Linked DNA regions of Homo sapiens: all the other regions are linked to region 1. The links come from fine-mapping of genetic effects on gene expression. A gene starts in region 1. Each other region holds a variant in brackets. All regions are shown on one strand. Distances are between the middles of the regions. Region 1 holds the start of PELATON (plaque enriched lncRNA in atherosclerotic and inflammatory bowel macrophage regulation). Region 2 overlaps PEDS1-UBE2V1 (PEDS1-UBE2V1 readthrough). Region 3 overlaps PELATON (plaque enriched lncRNA in atherosclerotic and inflammatory bowel macrophage regulation). Region 4 holds the start of LINC01270 (long intergenic non-protein coding RNA 1270).

What was found.
Region 2: its variant is fine-mapped to the expression of PELATON in whole blood (TOPMed, PIP above 0.99).
Region 3: its variant is fine-mapped to the expression of PELATON in whole blood (INTERVAL, PIP above 0.99).
Region 4: its variant is fine-mapped to the expression of PELATON in whole blood (TOPMed, PIP above 0.99).

The regions. Positions count from the first base shown.
Region 1 is chr20:50,265,041-50,269,853 of GRCh38, reverse strand. It overlaps PELATON (plaque enriched lncRNA in atherosclerotic and inflammatory bowel macrophage regulation), which reads right to left and starts at 2,376. Exons shown (of 4, transcript NR_170992.1): 1 at 2,191-2,376.
Region 2 is chr20:50,090,016-50,094,828 of GRCh38, reverse strand. The region is part of intron 6 of PEDS1-UBE2V1 (PEDS1-UBE2V1 readthrough); the gene reads left to right. The region is part of intron 2 of UBE2V1 (ubiquitin conjugating enzyme E2 V1); the gene reads left to right. Among named protein-coding and RNA genes, the nearest start is that of UBE2V1, 21 kb to the left of the region's middle. The variant T/C (reference allele first, on the strand shown) is at 2,771.
Region 3 is chr20:50,275,842-50,280,654 of GRCh38, reverse strand. PELATON (plaque enriched lncRNA in atherosclerotic and inflammatory bowel macrophage regulation) reads right to left here. Exons shown (of 4, transcript NR_170992.1): 3 at 3,042-3,164; 4 at 867-2,478. Among named protein-coding and RNA genes, the nearest start is that of PELATON, 11 kb to the right of the region's middle. RefSeq lists enhancers at 1,349-1,643, 2,646-3,183. The variant C/A (reference allele first, on the strand shown) is at 2,478.
Region 4 is chr20:50,288,558-50,293,370 of GRCh38, reverse strand. LINC01270 (long intergenic non-protein coding RNA 1270) reads right to left here and starts at 651. Exons shown (of 5, transcript NR_034124.1): 1 at 541-651. RefSeq lists an enhancer at 362-1,098. The variant G/A (reference allele first, on the strand shown) is at 2,013.

The sequences.
Region 1 (4,813 bases):
GGAGCCCTCTGGCTGAGTGTGGAGGGCTGTGTGGGGTGGGTGGGGAGTCCAGGGCGGAGATTCTGCCCAGGCAGGCGAGCAATGACCAGACAGAGGAGGGAAGACTTGTCGAGTTCTGGATTCAGTCCACAGGCAGAGCCGATGGAATTTGCTGAGGATTGAATGTTGGGGTTAGAGAGAGAGGAGTTAAGGACAACTCTGGGGTCTGAGGCCTGGCCCACTGGGTGGGTGGCAGTGCTGTCTTCTCAGCTGGGAAAGACATCCATGTCTCCCAGTGGGGTGCGCCCCTGGGACACCCATGGACAGACTGACAGAGCCCGCATAAAGGCACGAGGGACCCCGCACAGCTGAGCTCACGGGGCAAGGGTCAGATGAAGGCAGGAGAGGGGTCGTTTTCAAGGCCCAAGGAGGAACGGGCAGGGAAGTAAGAGGAGAACCAGCGAGACCAGCAAGCCGCCATCAAGAGGCTGGGGAAGACTGTGCTCAAGGAGGGGGCAGTTACCCAGGGGGCAGACGCTGCCAAGAGGACCAGCCAGAGAAGGCCGAGCAAACCCAGGCCCACTGTGCCACTTAGGCCGTCAGTGAGACTCCAGCTGGTGGCCAGCCCAGCCGTGCCCCCATCACCTTCGGAGCCCACATCTCTTTGGAGCAGCCAGACAGGCTGAACCCTAATTGGCCTGAGTCAGCCACGGGAATTCCTTTCTGGTTCAAATGTGGACATGTGAGCCCATCATTCCATGAGACACCAGGGGACATCCACTGGGACATGTAAGAAAAATTGTTGGCTGGGCACGGTGGCTCACGCCTGTAATCCTAGCACTTTTGGGAGGCTGAGGTGGGTGGATCACCTGAAGTCAGGAGTTTGAGACCAGCCTGGCCAACATGGTGAAAATTCATCTCTACTAAAAATACAAAAAATTAGCTGGGAGTGGTGGCCCACGCCTGTAATCCCAGCTATGTGGGAGGCTGAGGTAGGAGAATCGCTTGAACCCAGGAGGCGGAGGTTGCAGTAAGCCGAGATCGTGCCATTGCACTCCAGCCTGGGCAACAGAGCAAGACTCTGTCTCAAAAAAAAAAAAAAAAAAAAAAGTGAGATCCTGGAGGAGAAAGTCCCCTTTTCTGTTCATCTCTTCCTAGTTAGGATGTGATCATGTGGGACGTGATGTCTTGAGCCACAGCAGGCACTGGGGCCCATGAAGAAAGAGAAGTGAAGAGATGCCTACCTAGAGCGCAGGGAGCCTGCCCTGGAACACTGGAATGGCCCCACGTTAGACTTCATGTTATAAGATTTAATTAATATTTTTACTGTTGCAGTCATAGAAGATGGCCTAATTGGGGCAAGAGGAAACATAGGAATGAACCTGAGACAGGGGAGAAAATGGAGAGAGGAGGGATGAGAGCTGGAAGGGGGTCAGAAACACCCAAGCACGGGGTTCAGATGCACAGCAGGCTCCCTAAGTGTGAGTTGCTGTTTCTGCAAACAGGAGTTGTTCCCTGAGCACCTACTCTCTACCAGGTACATTTCCAAGCCCTGGGTGTCCATCAAGTCCTTTAATCCTCCCAGCAGTGCCAGGGAGGCTTCATCTGCTCCCCACATCTCTGCTTCCCCCGCCCCATGTTCAGATTCTAAAAAACCAAAAGGGCTCCCTCTAATTCATCTCGCCCCCAGAGAGCACTGACTCCCCACGGTGTCCCACTGAGCCCCACTGAGTCCAGTCCACCTCAACTTTCCTGCCTCTGGGAACAGGGTACCCACCCTCTGAGGGCCCCACTTCCCAAAGTTCTTTGTCCTGGCACAGCAGGTGCTGAGTAGCTCCCTGGACCTCTGTTTCCGCATCTGTAAAAAGCCACTAATCCTAATTGCACCTCCTAGGCTGATTGTGATGACCCAGGAAGGACCCTTGACCCAGTGTCTGGCCTGTAGTAGGGCTCGGTAAGCGTGAAATCTGATTATTGCCCATTATATTTATGGTTATACACAGGGCTGGCCCTGCCTCCTGCTGGAGCCGTGGGTCTGTCCAGGTTGAGAAGCTGAGGTGCTTGGAGCGTCCCCAGATCCCAAACAGGGAGCTGGAGTAGGAGGCGGGAGCATGAAGTCTCCTGGGCCCCGCCCGCCACCTCGCCCTGCCGCCCCTGCTCAGCAGCCGCCCCGCCCTGCCACCTTGGTCTCTGAGAACCCATTGTTCCTACCTGGCTCTGCTCCAGGGTCCTGGCCTTGCCACTTTCCTCTAGGATCCCCCGCCACCCCCGGGGCTTGGGCCTCCCCGCGGGGTCCTAAATTGGGTGCCAGATGTGGCAGCTGTCCAGCAATGGGAACAGGAGCTGGAACCCCAGCTCTGCCACATCCCAGCTGTGTGACCTTGGGCGCTTCCCCTCTCTGAGCCTCAGCTTCCTTGTTGGTTAAATGGGATGACGGGACCTCACAGGGCTGTCATGAGGGTTTCGTGAGCCCAGGATGGCAGAGTGCCCAGCATGTGGTAGGGCTCGGGAACATTCATCCTAATTTCTCTGCTCCTCACGGGCCTAGAGGAAGAGCCAGGAACATCAGAGGCAGTGGCCAGAGTGGGTAGAGCACTGGAAGGGGAGTCTAAGGCCAGGGTCCCGGCTCCAACCCTGCTGTGTGACCTCGGGCAGGCTGTGGGTATCTCTGGGCCCCAGAATGAGGGAAAGAAGTAGCTGGGATCCTCCTTCCTCCCCAGGAAGCAAAGCAGAGGGGTGGTGCCAAGTTTTCTTTTCATTTTTTTTATTTTCAGCACAAAGGGCTCAAATGGAAAGCAGCTGCAGAGACAGAGAATCCGATTGTGAAGGCACCCGAGACTCCAGGCAGGCGGAAGAGGCAGCGTCTTGGGTGCTGGGCTGGGTAACAGAGGCCAGGGTATTGACCAGAAACTCCAACAAGCAGGGGACAGCTTGGGGGGTGGGGGGTTGTCTCCCACCCCTTCTTCAGGGTGCTGGCCTAGGAGACAGGGACCCCGCCTCGGGCATCTCCTGCTTAACCTCAGTTTCTGTGTCCAGACATGGGCAGGCCATCCTGACTCTCTTAGCCTTGGTTTCCATCTCCAAAATGTGTCCAGTAGTGGCACCTTCCTTCTAGGGAGGGGTTGTGTGGTTAAGGTCTCGGGGCGGGCTCCTCAGTCAAACAGGCTTGGCTTTGATCCTGCCTCTGCCTCTCACTAACTGTGTGACCTGGAGTAAGCCACCTCCCCTCCCTGTGCCTTGATTTTCCCATCTGTGAAATGGAAACAATAATAGAACTAATCTGCTGGGGAGATGAACTGAGAAGACTCAGCCTGGTGCCTGGAGCAGAGTAAAGACTAATGATTATTGTTGTCTTTCTTTTTGGAGGCAGAGTCTCACTGTGTTGCCCAGCCTGGAGTGCAGTGGCAGTGGCGCGATCTCGGCTCACTACAAGCTCCACCTCCCAGGTTCAATCATTGACCCTCCAGCCTCAGCCTCCCGAGAAGCTAGGACTATAGGCTCACACCACCAGGCCCAGCTAATTTTTTGTATTTTTAGTAGAGACCAGGTTTCACCATGTTGACCAGGCTGGTCTTGAACTCCTGGCCTGAAGTGATCTGCCTGCCTTAGCCTCCCAAATTGCTGGGATTCCAGGTGTGAGTCACCGCGTCCAGGCATCTTTCTTATTATTATTATCCCAGGAGCTCCACCTGCTAAGGCCCCAGCCTCAGAAAGCCTCCCTTCCCCTGAGTGCTGGTTCATCTCAACAATTTCCTCACATATTTCTTGAGCAGCAACTATACCGGTCTTGGCAAAGCCAAGGTTCTATCTAGGAGAAGAAAGACATTAAATGAAGGACCCGTGTGTGAAGGGCTTGGTGAGTAGCAGGGGCTCATTGACACTGTTCACCAGCACCTGCCCCCTCAGCTGCTCTGTGCTGGACTCTTTCTGGGCTCTGGGGACACAGTCTTCAGGGGAGTCCCAATCAGAGGGTCTGGGTGGAGGTGAGAAGCTGGTGTGTGGATGAGGCAGTTTCTCACACTGTGGCAAGGTCTGTGATGGAGGAAGTCCAGGTGACTTTGGGAGCTAGAGGTCAGGATGGGCTTCCTGGAGGAAGTGGTTAGGAATGAAAATAACATCTATTCAGCATTATTATTATGATGTGTCAGGCACTGTTCTCTCCTCAACACCCCGCTCCAGAAGGTTTTCTTCTCACACACCCATTCTACAGGTGAGTCTGGGATCAAAGAGGCCCAGTAGGGTGTCAGAGGTCACGTAGCCAAGACATGGCAGAGCTGAGATGAAACCCCGCAGTGGGACACTGCCCCACTTGCCCCCCGACAGCGCTCTCCAGCCTCCAGGCCTTTGCTCCAGCTCTTCCTTCTGCCCAGACATTCCAGACCCTGCACCGTCTCATATCCACTCTGCTGGAGGAATGAAGAGAACAGCCCTTGGAGGCCGCAAAGTGTCCTCAAGCCTCAGTTTTCCCATCTATGAAATGGGGATAGCATGGGGCTTTCCTCTCGGGCTGCAGAAAGGATCGAGAAAAGGCTTATTATTCACCTAGGGCCTAGCCCTTGGGAACCAGTCCGGAAGGACAGCTGTTATTATTGCTAATGCTGTTCCTATCACAGTGACAGCGTGTCCCGTTAGGCCTGCAAACCCCTATACCTCAGTTTTTCCTGTAATGAAACCTGCCTGCTGAGGCCTCGGTGAGGGCTCATTTAATGATAATCTTTAGGGAAAAAAAATACACCCCCCAAGCCGCCTGTGTGGCTGCAGCCCACAGGGGTAACCTGACGCCCCTCGCCTGACCTGGCCCCCAGGTCTTTGTGTGAGTCCTGCCCAGATTACT
Region 2 (4,813 bases), 180 kb after region 1:
TTCAGAGTTGTGCATCCGTCACTAATTTCAGAACGTTTTCATCACCTCAAAAAGGAACCCATACCCATCGGTAGGCACCCCCCATTCTCCCTCCCACATCCCCCATTTCCCATCTTTGACAATCATCAGTCTACTTTCTAGCTCAATGAATTTGCTTTTTCTGAACATCTATTATAAATGGAATTCTACAGTATGTGGCCTTTTGTGACTGGCTTCCTTTACTCAGCATAATTTTTTCAAGGTTCAAGCATATTGTAGCATCTATCAATACTTTTATTCTTCTTATGGCTGAATAATATTCCATTGTACAGATACGCCATATTTTGTTTTTCCATTTGTTGATGAACATTTGGGTTGTTTCTACCTTTTGGCTATTATAAATAATGCTTCTAGGAACATTTATATACAGGTTTGTATGTGGACATATATTTTCTTTTTATTTTTTTATCTACACCTGCTGGAATAGATGGACATAGTTGTTTTTAGCTACCTAATTTTTCCTCCTTTGAAGATGGACATATATTATATATAATTATATATTATATAATGCATTATATATTATATAATGCATTATATATTATATAATGCATTATATATTATATAATGCATATGTTATATATTATATATACTGTATATTTATATAACATATATGATATGTAATATATATTACATATAATTATATATAAGATATATAATTATAATATATAATATATTTTTATTTAAATAAAAGCAAATCCTCCAAGCCTATATATATTATATATATAACATACATAATATATTTTATATATATATATTTTATTATTATTATTATTATTATTTTTTTTTTTTTTTTTTTTTTTTTGAGTTGGAGTCTCGCTCTGTCTCCCAGGCTGGAGTGCAGTGGCGCAATCTCGGCTCACTGCAACCTCCACCTCCCGGATTCAAGCAATTCTCTGCCTCAGCCTCCCGAGTAGCTGGGATTACAGGTACCCGCCACCACGCCCAGCTAATTTTGTATTTTTAGTAGAGACGGGGTTTCACCATCTTAGCCAGGCTGGTCTTGAACTCCTGACCTCATGATCTACCCACCTCGGCCTCCCAAAGTGCTGGAATTACAGGTGTGAGCCATCGCGCCCTGCCGGAGATACATTTTTGAATTCCCCTGGGTGTATACCTAGGAGTGGAATTGCTGGATCATATGGTAACTGTGTTTAACATTTGGAGGAAATGCCAAACTGTTTCCCAAAGTGGCTGCACCATTTTACATTCCTACTAGCAATGCCCGAAAGTTCCCATTTCTCCACATTCTCACCAACACTTGTTATTGTCTTTTCACCCTTGTAGTTTTTATTATCCTGGTTCCCCAAGGTCAGAAACTAAGTCATAAAAGGAACTATCTGTGTGTAGATGCTTCCTGTGACCAATCTTTCATGATTAGCACATGAGCTATTTGCTGTGTAACTCGAATATCCACATAATTATTAAAGCATCTAAATAGAGCACTTGAGTAACTCATCTCCCTATTAGGTTTTTGTTATTGTTTTACTCAAAAGAACATTTTCCATCAAAATTTCAAAGGTCTATACCATGTGATCCAGGAATTCTTCTAGGAATTTACTTTCCAATTTCTCTTGAATGTATTGCCCAAAGGCAGTGTACAAAATTATTTCATGCAGCATTGTCAGTAGTAGCAAAATATTGGAAACAACATCATTGTCTTTGAGTATACCATATTATGTCCTGTTTAGCTGTTGAACAATGAGACAGATTTATGTGTGCTGAAATGGAATGATCTCCATGATATTGTGAAAAAGTAAATTATAAAACAGGAGACAGAGTATGCTGCCAGTTGGAGTGGGGGGCCTTGGGTGCAGAGGAAGAGCTCATGCATACACTGCTTCTGTGTGCTTAGAATACCTCTGGAGGAATGGGAAAGAAGCTGCTGACAGTGGTTGTCTTCTTCAGAAGGGAGCTGGCTGGCTAGGGCTGGAGTGGAAAGGAAACTTACTTTTTACCATATACCCTTCTGTACTCTTTGAATGTTTTAGTCATATGTGTGTGCTGTTTGAATAGTGCCCCCACCTTTTTTGTTTGTTTGTTTATTTAAAGAAAAGCAAATCCTCCAAACCTAAAAACAAAGCTTCTGAGCCAACTGCTCCTTGCACAATTCTGGCAAATGTCTAGCTGTCCACAGCGTTAGACATGGAATATTTCTACTTTGACCACAGAAGTACTAACAATAGTCAAGTTATATAGAGCAGAGTTTCTCAGACGTGGCATGTAGGGCTGGTTCTTTTCTTTGTCATGAGAGTGCTAGGTATGTGCGTTGTAGGCTGTTTAGCAGCATCCCTGGCCTCTACTCACTAGAAGCCAGCAGTACCCCCGTCTCCATTGCAGCAACCATAAATGTGTCTAGGCAACGCTTGATCCTCCCTTCCCCTTCCCAGCAGAGGGGCAAAAATGGCCCTCATCGAGGAGCACTGTTGAGCCTCTGGGGTTCTCCAAAATAGTGTTTTTTCTGTTTTTTTGAGATGGAGTCTTATTCTGTTGCCCAGGGTGGAGTGCAGTGGCGTGATTTCAGCTCACGGCAGTCTCTGTCTCCCGGGTTCAAGCGATTCTCCTGCCTCAGCCTCCCTAGTCGCTGGGGTTATAGGCACATACCACCACACCCGGCTAATTTTTATATTTTTAGTAGAGACAGGTTTTTGCCGTGTTGGCCAGGCTGGTCTCAGACTCCTGACCTCAGGTGATCCGCCCACCTTGGTCTCTCAAAGTGCTGGGATTACAGGCA[T/C]GAGCCCACCACACCCGGCCAAGTGTTTTATGTGTGGATTAGAGCCTGGATGTGTGTTTATACCCTGGAGTACTGGTACCCATGCTTCAGAGGAACTGAACATAATTACAGGGGTGTAGGAAGTAAAAGAAAAGTGATCCTTTCTCTGATTCATTATGCTCACCATCGAATGAAACTTAAGTTGGTGTGTGGTGTGGTTCTACCCACTTTTGCTGTGGGTATGCAAACGTAAATATATATCTTTTTAAGAAAAATGGGATCTTCCTATGCATAATGTTTTACAACTTAATTTTTTTTCACCTAATAGATGGTGGACATCTTTCTATATCAGTGCATATTGACTGATCTCTTTTTTAAAAGCTTTGAGGCGGGGCGTGGTAACTCACGCCTGTAATTCCAGCACTTTGGGAGGCCAAGGCGGGCAGATCACCTGAGGTCAGGAGTTCAAGACCAGCCTGGCCAATATGGCGAAACCCGGTCGCTACTAAAAAAGTATAAAAATTAGCTGGGCGCGGTGGCAGATGCCTGACTCAGGAGGCTGAGGCAGGAGAATCACTTGAACCTGGGAGGTAGAGGTTGCAGTAAGCCGAGATCGCGCCACTGCTTGCAACAAGAGCGAGACTCCATCTCAAAAAAAAAAAAAAAAAAGCCTTAAGTTATATGACTGATTAATGAATATGAATATATTCTTGTAAAAATTTTTAATGACAAAAGCCCAGGTGTGGTGATTCACGCCTGTAATCCCAGCGCTTTGGGAGGCCGAGGCAGGTGAATCACTTGAGGTCAGGAGTCGAGACCAGCCTGGCCAACATGTTGAAACCCCATCTCTACTAAAAATACAAAAATTAGCTGGGCGTAGTGATGCACGCCTGTAGTCCCAGCTACTCAAGAGGCTGAGGAGGGAGAATCGCTTGAACCCAGGAGGCAGAGGTTTCAGTGGGCCAAGATCATACCACTGGACTCCAACCTGGGTGACAGAGTGAGACTCTTGTCTCAAAAAAAATTTTTTTTCCAACAATACAGAGTATATAGAATAAGAGGTTAACTTAGTCCCGCTTTAACTCTGTGTCAGTCAGGAAAAGAGAAATCATACCAGCTAATTTTTTTCCCAGCTTTATTGAGATGTAATTGATAAATAAAAGCTGTATATATCCAAGGTATACAGTGTGATGATTTGATATACATTGTGTAATGATTACCACAACCAAATTAATCAACGCATCCATCACCACGTGTAGCTACCTTGTGTGTCTGTGGTAAGGACACTTAAGATCTACTCTTTTACCAAATTTCAAGTAAACAATCCAGTATTATTAACTGTAGTCACCATGCTTTACATTAGATTCCCAGAACTTACTCATAACTGAAAGTTTGTGCCCTTTGACCAGTATCTCCCCTTACACCCTGGTCCCTGTCAACCACTGTTCTGTTCTCTGCTTCTGTGAGTTCTACTTTTAGATTCCATGTATAATTGAGATCATACACTTTTTGTCTTTCTGTGTCTGGCTGATTTCACTTAGCATAATGTCCTTCAGGCTCATCTATGTTGTCATGACTAGCAAGATTTCTTTTTTTTTTTTTTTTTGAGACAGAGTCTCGCACTGTTGCCCAGGCTGGAGTGCAGTGGCGCCATCTCGGCTCACTGCAGCCCCCGCCTCCCAGGTTCAAGCAATTCTCCGACTGGCAGGATTTCTTATTTATGGCTGAATAATATTTCATTGTGTGATATATGCCATATTTTCTCTAGGACATTTAAGTTGTTTCCATATATTGGCTATTGTGAATAACTGCAATGAGTGTGGAAGTGCAGATGATCTCTTTGAGATACTGATTTAATTTCCTTTGGATTGATACCCAATACTAGGCAACAGAGATAATTTAATATAGGAAGTTGATCAAATAGATGTTGGACTAAAAAATCAAAGAAGGCACAATATGAGAACACAGAGATACTGCTGCAGAAACAGTAACCACCCTCTGGGTTTGGGAGGCCAGCAGAGGAAGCTTGGGCTGTCAGAACCTGGCACTTGGGGAAAAGGTGCC
Region 3 (4,813 bases), 11 kb before region 1:
GAGAAATACAAGGAGACAGAAAGAGGCAGAAACAGAGAGACACAGAGAGAGACAGAACTCAAGAGGGACAAACTCATCTCCCATGCCTCCCTCCCTCCTGGGGGCCTTGGACCCTCCTTGCCAGCACCCCTGACCCATTCCCACCATCACCATTGACTCCCTCCAGGAAAAGATTGATCCACTGCCCCCCACCCCACATGGTCCTGGGCTGGAATCCCAGCCCAGATGCTGACCTCTGTGTGACATCAGACAGGTGACTCTCCCTCTCTGGGCTCAGTCTCTCCATCTGTGAAATGAGAACGCCAACCAGGGCAGTTTTATTGGCTGCTTGATGAGAGGGGGGCCTGGGCCTGACACCAACAAGCACCTAAGAGCCCTGGGCTGGGGGCAGGAGGTGAGCTCAGGGCTCCTCTCCCCGGAGAGGTCACTATTCATTTATTGGTTCTTTTAAGAAACATTTATTAAGCACCGACTGTGTGCCAGGCATTGCACTAGGTGCATAAGGTAGACAAAAGTCCCTGTCCTGAAGGAGCTAATGTTCTACTGGGGAGATAGGCAAGAACCAACAAGCAAATTCATACGAAATGTGCCAGGTGGAGAGAAGGCAACCAGTGGGGTAGTGGGGGTCGATAAATCCAGGCAAGTTGAGGGGAGGAAGTAAGGGTGTAGGGTGTAGGGTGGCCAGTGCAGGGAAGCTCCTTCGAATTCTTGTCATTTCTCCAGAGGCCATGACAGTTTTTATATTTAAGCCAGCTGCTGATGGTGGGGGACTCATTATCGATGCTCCCTGAGTTTCCGGCTCCCTGCAGGGCACTCTCATCAATTTCATCACATTGAATCTCCTCTGCAACCCCAGAAGACAGGTACTCATTTTCATTTTTATTTATTATTAGTATTGTTATTTTTAGAGATGGGGCCTCAATCTATCACCCAGGCTGATGTGCAGGGGCATAATCATAGCTCACTGCAGCCTCAAACTCCTGGGCTCAAGCAATCCTCCCGCCTCAGCCTCTAGAATAGCTGGGACTACAGGCACACACCACCACACCCGGCTAATTTTTTTAGAATTTTGTAGAGACAGGGGTCTCACTATGTTGCCCAGGGCTGATCTCAAACTCCTGGTCTCAAGCAATTCTCTCGCCTCGGCTTCCCAAAGCGCTGGGGTTACAGGCATGAGTCACCACACATGGCCAGAGACAGGTACTCTTATTGTCCCCATTTCCCAGATGAAGAAACTGAGACCCAGAGAGATGAAGTGACTTGCCCAAGGTCACATTGCTGGAAAGGGGCAGAGCCAGGATTCAAATGGGGCCAAACAGGGATATAATCCAAGGTGAGATGGGCCGATACGATACCAGGGCAGGGGCTTGAAGGGGAGACAATCAAGCAGGGAACAGGGCTTATGCCAGAGCCCTCAGCAGCCAACAGGTTAAGGGCCCGGGAATCTGGGTCTCTGGCCCCAGATAGGGTGACAGCCACACCCAGGCTCAGCCTCTGGCCCGCGCCGCCTGCTGGGAACACACAGTCCTCAGGACTAAGAGGCTCAAAATAGAAAGTGCAGGACCTGGGTCGAAGCCTGGAATGCCCCAGGCAGGCAGACCATGACTCCTGGAAGGGCCCAAGGCTGCAGGGCTGGGGCTGGCGGGGCGAGAGTCACTGGTATCCACTTGTTAGAGCCTGCGTCTCATCTTTGTTATTCTCCTGATGCAGTTTCCAAGACGCCAACTCCAGGATGTGACCAACCCGGGCTCCTCTCCTGGCCTAATCTCAGACCAGCTGTGTGGCCTTGGGCTGGTCACCTACCCCAGAGGACCTCAGTGTCCTTATCTGCCATCGGCTCATAGAGTTGTTCATTCAGGCAGTCAGCCAATGTGTGTCGAGCACTTACCATCTGCCAGGCACTGGGATGGCACTGGGGGCACACAGAGAACACAACAGACAAAAATCCCTGCCCTCATGACTAGGTAGAAAGACCCTACCTTGCTCAGAAGGAAGTCGGGGGGGTGGTCAGGGATGGCTTCCCATGTGGGCACCCGAAGGAGTTGTGGGAGGGAGCCCTGTGGATGCCTAGGAGAAGTGTTCCAGGCAGAGGAAACAGCCAGTGCAAAGGGCCCGGGGCAGTGTGGGCCTCAGGCTGTTTCAGGAGCAAGGAGGAAGCCAGCATGGCTGGAGGGTGAGTGAGGAGGAAGGCTGGGAGAGGAGACAGAGGGAGGTCAGAGAGGAGGCCCCGAGAGCCAAGGAAGGAATCCGAGGGTTTATTCTCCAAGCAACAGAGATCCCTTAGAGAGGACTTTGCTGTGGACTGATGTGGGCTGGCCCACAGTTTTAATAGCTCCCTCTGGCTGAGTGTGGAGAGGGGATTTCTGGAAGACCAGGGAAGAGACTTCTGTGCCAGCAGAGATGAGCAGCAGTGGTGGCAGTGGAGGCAGAAGGAAGGGCTTGGGTCGGGGGTCTGTTTGCAGGAGCTGCTGGGAGGA[C/A]CTGCCGAGGGAGAGAAGGGAAGAGGGCATGGGTGGGGGTTGAACAGAGACCCCCTCCACCCTCCAGGCCTCAAGGAGCCCCACAGGAAGTGGGTGGTCAGGCGGCCCAGCTGGGAAGGCTGACTGGTTTGTCCAGCCTGAAGCCCACGACCCTCTCCCCACCCTCTGCCCATGGCAGCCCAGGGCTAGAAATGTACCTGGAATGTCAGCCATGAAGCCCGGCCAGACAGTGCCCATGGGACCTGCTGGGGGCCAGGTGAGCACCCTGGCCACAGCCCTGCCTACAAGGGTAATCTCTCGGACCCATTGACCAGGGTAAGTGGTAATTACAGGCCCTGGAGCAGAGAGGGTGGTGACCTCCAGCCAAGACACGCAGGGACTGCGATTCGCACGCAGGACCCCTAACGAGGCACACCCTCTTTGTTGCTGAACAGGCAACAAACTGCCCCAGAGACCAGGGCGTGTCAGCAGAAAGAGCACTGGGCTATGAGTCTGAGACCCCCAGGGCCTTCTCTGAACCTTAGCCCCCTCATCTGCCAAAGAAATACTTATCCATGCACGCACGCTTGCATTGCTTCCCAAGTGTTTACTGGGCACTTGTCCTGGACAGGCGCTGTGCTGGGGGCTGGGTGTACAGCAGTGAACAAAACACACAAAAATCCCCACCTGGGCGATGGTGACATTCCACTGGAAAGAGACAGACAAGAAACAGGATATACCAGCAGGTTAATTTCTAGGATACGTGCTAAGTCCTAGGAAGAAATAAAAACAGCATGAGGCCATAGGAATGAGGGGCTGGTCAGAGAAGGTGTCCCCAGGGGTGACTTTGGAGCAGAGGCCTGACCCTAGACAAGGATCCGCCATGGGGAGAGCTGGCGAGAGTGTCCTCTGTTCCAGAGGGAAGAGTGGGTGCGAAGTCAATGAGGCAGCAGCAGGATAATTGGCAAGTTTATGGCAGAGAGATGAGGCCACCGTGGCTGTGGGTGAACAGAGAAGGGAGAGGCAGTGAGGTCAGGCGGGGCCAGGGCAGAGATCCTGCAGGCCCTGTGGGCTTCTGCTCTGAGTGAGTTGGGAGCCATAGAGGGTTCTGAGCAGAGAAGGGATAGGATCTAACTTGAGCTCTTACAGAATTCCTCTGGCTTAGGAAGGCGAGAGAGGAGGCAGGGAGACCAATGAGGAGACGACTGCAAACATCCTAGCTGGACCAGGGCAGGGCAGGGTAGTGGGGGTGGACCCTTGGACATGTGGATGAGTTTGCTGATGGGCTGACCATGGGAACAAGAGGGAGAACCCAGGTTGGGGGCCTGGGCAGCCAGGTGGCTGAGGTTGCCATCGCTGTAGCAGGGAAACTGCAGGTTTGTGGTGGGGGTAGACAGAGCTCCCTCTGAGCATGAGGCCCCACCCAGAGTAAAAGAAGGACTCCCAGTCCACACACCCCTGCCTCAAGCACAGATCAGTGAAGGGATTCTGTGGACAGGTGGCCCTGGAAGCTGTGATCTGCAGGGGCGAGGTGCCTGCTGTCTACCTGGTGAAAGTCCTACCAATGCAGCTCTTGAGGCTGCCCAGTCTCACACCCCAGGGAGCAAACTTGGCACCTGTTCTTTGCCCTACCCTGAACATCCGCTGGGCTCCCGGGGTTGGTCCCGATGTTCATTTGGAATCTCAGGGGTGATGGGTGGGGAAGGTGGAAAAACGCTGTACCTCTTTCCCACCCATCCCTGTCCCCCGTCAGCCAAACAGGGCTGAGGACTCGCGATCATTCTTCCTCTGCGCCCCTGTCCCCATACCTCTCAGAGACAGCGTGACTTGTGGCCTCTGCAGCCAGGAACGTGCTCTGGTCCCGTCATCTCACACTGCCCCATCCCCCTCATAGTCACTTGGTTTTCTGCACGTAAGTTCCCTTTTCATAGATGGAGGAACTGAGGTTCCGAGAGGTGGGGCAGGCTCCCAAGTTCACACTCAGGTTAAGTGGCAGGGGCGGGATTCACACTCAGGTCCATCTGATTCCAAAGCTCTTAAGCCCTGAGCATTATAGCTGCTGGCTTAGGTCGGCTCCCAGAAGCTGACCCAAGACAAGGTTTTGGGTGCAAGTGGGATATTTGGGAGGTGATTCTAGAAACACTGGGAAGGAGTGAGGAAGTGACACAAGGAAGGTAGATGAGCAGGTCTCCTCAGTGGGCAACAGGAGCCCAACCCCCTAGAGGCCTCTGGGACAACTCGCAGAAAGTACCTTCCCACTGTCCCCTGAGCCAGAAGCAAGGAAGCTGAGTGGGGGGACAAACAGACCCCACCTCTACTGGCAGGGGTCTCTCACTTGCTTCCCACACTCTTGTGGC
Region 4 (4,813 bases), 24 kb before region 1:
TGCCAGGTGCTGGTTCAGAGCACAGGTCCTGGAGCCAGACTGCTCAGTGCGTTAGGCAGGTGACTCAGCCCCTCTGTGCCTCAGTTTCTCCAGCTGTGAAACAGTCCACATGGCACCTCCCTTGTCGGCTGCTGAGGAGACGAAAGGAAATTATTTCCAGTCAAACAGAGTGCTCTTGTTGCATGCCCTTGGGAGAATTCATTCCCGCTCTGAGCCTCAGTTTCCCCATCTATCATATGGGGATTAAACTACGCCACTGTGTTGCATCGCTGCGAGACTAACGTGACGTATTTGCACAGTGCCTCCCGCACAGTGGACGTTTACTCAGAGCTCACTGTTCATTCACTCCAGTCCTGCAGGCCTCACTGTCCCCATCTGTAATCCCAGAAGGCAGCCCTGATCACCCAAGACGGCTGCTAAGTCCCTAGTGCAAAGGTCGAGGGGTCCCAGGGCAGCCCTGACAACTGGGGATATCCTGGGGGTGGGGAGGACAGCTGAGTGGCCGGGATCAGGAAGCTGCAGGGGGCCCAGGTGACTCACCCGCTGGCGGGGCTTGGGGGCTGGGCTGCGGCCCCCACGCACCCCTCTGGGCCCTGCCTTGTGCCCAAAAGTGCTGTGTCATGCTCCGTCATGTGGCTCCGGGTCATTAATACCCGAGTTCTGGGAAGCTTGGGCCGAGTTCCCGGAAGGGGTCAGCCAGTTCAGTAAACAGATTGGCTGGTTCGTCGTCACAGCTGAGCCGGGCGGGCCTGCAGCTCAAGAGGCAGGAGATGGAGGCTGGTGGCCAAGGGGACACAGGAACTGCCCCCGGCCCCATTCGGGGCTGGCACCTCCCAGGGCAGCCTGGCCCAGGCTCTGCAGATGAAAGGAGAAACCAAGGCCCAGAGAGGGCAAGGCAGTTGCCAGAGATCACACAGCAGGTCCGGGGCGCGGACCTAGAATTCTGGTCTTATCATCCAGTGCTCTCAGCATCACTCTGACTGATGGGCAGGGGGGGACAAATCACCTCAAATTGTAACCTAAGCCCCCCAAGCCCCCAAATCCTAACCTGGACCCTAAGGCCAGTGTGTTGGATGAAGGGAGAAATAAATGGAAGGCAACTTGGGAAGGAAGCAACTTTGAGGGGTTACTGGGCTGTCCCCTGTGGTCGATCCTATAATCATAGTAACTGCTTCTAGTGTTTCTTGAGCATCTATTATGTACAGGGCATTACCATAAGTGCCTTCCATAAATCCACCCATTTAATATTCAGCCACCTTTATACGAATAAACACAGGCATCACGTTTAAAGCATCCACTGAGTGCCAGGCACTGAGCTGGGTGATTGACATACACCACCCGGGATCCTCTGCGGACCTTGCCAGGGAGGCATCGCCGTCACCCCTGTTCATCAGATGAGGAAACAGATGCCCAGGAGGGCGAGCAGCTGAGGTGTATGGTGGGAGAACAGCAGGCTCCAGAGTCGACTAGACCCAGGGATTCAAATCTTTACTTTTACCCTTCCTGCTGTATGGCCTCAGGCAAGTGACTCCACCTCTCAGAGCCTCAGTTTACCCATCTGGTAAATGGGGATGATTATGGTACTGGAAACACTGGAGCCAGACTTGGTGGGAGCTCGTGAGTGTCATGATAGGGCAGTGGCTGGAGTGCAGACTTTTGGGTTGAATCTTGCTGTGCCCCTTCTTGGCTGTGTAACCTCGGGCATGCCGCTTAGCCTCTCTGGGACTCAGTGTCCTCTGTAAAATGGACATAGCACCTCCCTCATGCGGCAGGTGGGAAGAATGAATGAGCAGAAATCCCCGCAGCCTTCTGTGCGAGGCCAGGTATTCTGCAGCCACTGAACGCAGGTGACTTGTTCTTATATTTCACCTATGATGGCTCCACTGGGACTGGGGTGAGGGGAAGGACACTAGACCATGGGCAGAAGGACAAGGCACCCACATTCTTTGCTGCCCTTTTGCACCCACAAACAATCTGGAAAGGGAAGCTCAGCCTTGCCTGCCTCCTTGAGG[G/A]TCGGGGCTGAGGCTTGGCGTGAATGGTTGCCATGGCATCCTCCCCACCTCCCCACCAGCCACTCTGCCTTGCTATGGACTCCACGTTCCTCCCCTACTTAAAACCCTCTAGGGCTCCCCATTCCTCTTCTCGTGTACTACTCCCCAGTTTGGCTGAGCCCCAGACAGGCCTTATCATGGCTCTTTGGTTCTTGGCACCCCAGCCCCAGCCCCCTTGGTACAAACTCTCACACTCATCATTCCCACCTCACCCTTGTGCACACACAGGGCCCTTCACCCGGCATGCCCTCACTTTCCCTAACCCACCTGCCTGGTCTGGATTTCACCCACCCTTCAACGCACGTATTCAAAACCTCCTCCTCCAGGGAGACTGCCCTGATCCTCCCCTTTGAAAGCGAACTCTTTCTAGACTCTCTCTATATATATACCTCACTTACGTCTTTCTATCATTATATATCAACTATTTTTGTCCACCACCTCAAATTTTGGCAGCTGTGAGGTAGAAAATTTGCACAAGGGAGATTTTGGGGAAAAAATATTGCCTCTAAAATACTTAAAGAAATCTGCTGGCCAGGTGTGGTGGCTCACTACTGTAATCCCAGCACTTTGGGAGGCCGAGGCAGGTGGATCACTTGCAGTCAGGAGTTGGAGACCAGCCTGGCCAACATGGTGAAACCCTGTCTCTATCAAAAAATACAAAACTTAGCCAGGTGTGGTGGTGCATGCCTGTAGTCCCAGCTACTCAGGAGGCCGATGTGGGAGAATCACTTGAACCCGGGATGTGGAGGTTGCAGTGAGCTGAGATTGTACCACTGCACTCCAGCCTGCTAGGCGCGACCCTGTCTCAAAAAAAAGAAAAAGAAAAACCTGCTAAGTTGAAATTTTAAAATCTTTAATTAACCCACTCACACTTTATAATTCTATATTAAATTTCTAATTTAATATTTACAAAAATATTACAAAAATTTTCGAGGCGTTTGTAAACAATCTGCGAGTGAGAATGTTTCTTGTTGGGCAAGCGTTCCCTGGTGTACGCAGGGTTGCCAAGAACCCGAAGTAAGTGGTAAAATAAACGCGCTGCTTGTTGCCACACAATTTCAGAAGTGAAGTTACTAATATTATTGAAGTGTTTGGGTGATTTTTCCAACCCTCTTTTGGGTCCAGTCTGACCTTCCGTGTCCGTGTATTCCCCATCATCCTCATCAACCCGTCTCCTTCAACTCTTTTTCCAGTTCCCCGTCTTCTTACCTCCCTCCACCTGGAAAACAGTCTTCCATATTCCCGCCACACATGCTCGCTCACACTCCTCCGCCCCCTGCAATGCCCTCTCCTCTTTTTTGTGGGAATCTGACCCTTCTTCACAGTTGAGTCCAAGCACCACCTCTCCAAGTCACCCCGTCCAGCCCCGATCCAGGACCATCTGCCAGGCTCGGAGGCAGCTGTGCTAACTCTCCCCGCCAGCTCCTTACCTGCAAAATAGAAGGGCTGCAGTATCACAGAGGCCTCAAACTCACGGCCTTCAGGCCAAACCTGGCCTGATATTTGCCCTAACATTTAAATATCAACAGGTTTCATATAGCAATCTAGATCAAGCTTGTCCAACCCGCGAACAACAGGCCACATGTGGCCCAGGATGGCTATGAATACGGCCCCACACAAATTCATAATGTTTCTTAAAACATGAGATTTTGTTTGCGATTTTTTCTTTTTAGCTCATCAGCTATCGTTAGTGTTAGTGTATTTTATGTGTGGCCCAGGGAAGCCAAAAGGTTGGACACCCCGATCTAGATTTACAGCTTCTCATGAAAAACTGTCAGTCCCGGCTTCCCACGGGGCGACACTGGCAGAAACTGAGCAGCGTCCACCCCTTTAGACAGGCCTGCACCCCTCTCCCACCACTTCACCATGAGTGCTGCTTGCCCAGCCCTGGCAGCACCTGAGTTTGGCTTTTTTCAGTCTCAGAATCCCTTCTTTTATTTTATTCTAATTTTTATTATTATTTATTTATTTTCTTTTAGAGACAGGGTTTCGCCATGTTGCCCAGGCTAGTCTCTAACTCTTAGGCTCACACAATCCTCCCATCTCAGCCTCCCAGAGTGCTGGGATTACAGGCATGAGCTATCGCGCCTGGCTGTGAGGCTGCCTTTTGGAACCAGTCCTCCAATGAGGCTGATCCTCTGACTCCCTTGAAAAAGCATCTTAGAGTCTCCTGGTCTGCTGGCAAGGAAAGGCCGCCTGCCCACTTGTTCCCATCTGCACCGGTAGAAGAGACCCTTCCCCAGTGTACATCCTCTGGACACTTAAATTCTTTGAAGCACAGTGTGAAAAACTCAGCACCCCCTGAGGCCAGGTTGTGACCACGCCAGGTTCTGGGCCCTGCCCTAGACCTATGAAGTTGGCCCCTCAAACCAGTTCCCCATCTCAGCAAACGATAGCGCCTGCATCCACCTATCCACTCCAACATCTCCCTCGCCCAATCCAACAAATCCTGCTGGCTTTGCCTTCCAAACAGAATCCAGTCCCTTCTCCCACCTCTGCTGCCATCGCCCTCCTTTTGTCCTAGACTAGGGGAGTCATCTCTGCTGGGTTCTCTGCTCTCATCACAACATCCTGGCCCCCCACAGTCCACTTGCCCCATTTGCAGCCAGAGAGATCCTGCACCCAGGACACATTCCGCAATGTCTGGAAATAATTTTAGTTGTCACAGCTGGGTTTGGGGAGGAGGTGCGACTGGCAACCTCTCCAGTGGGCAGAGGCCGGGGACGCTGCTTAACATCCTACACTGCACAAGACGACCCCAC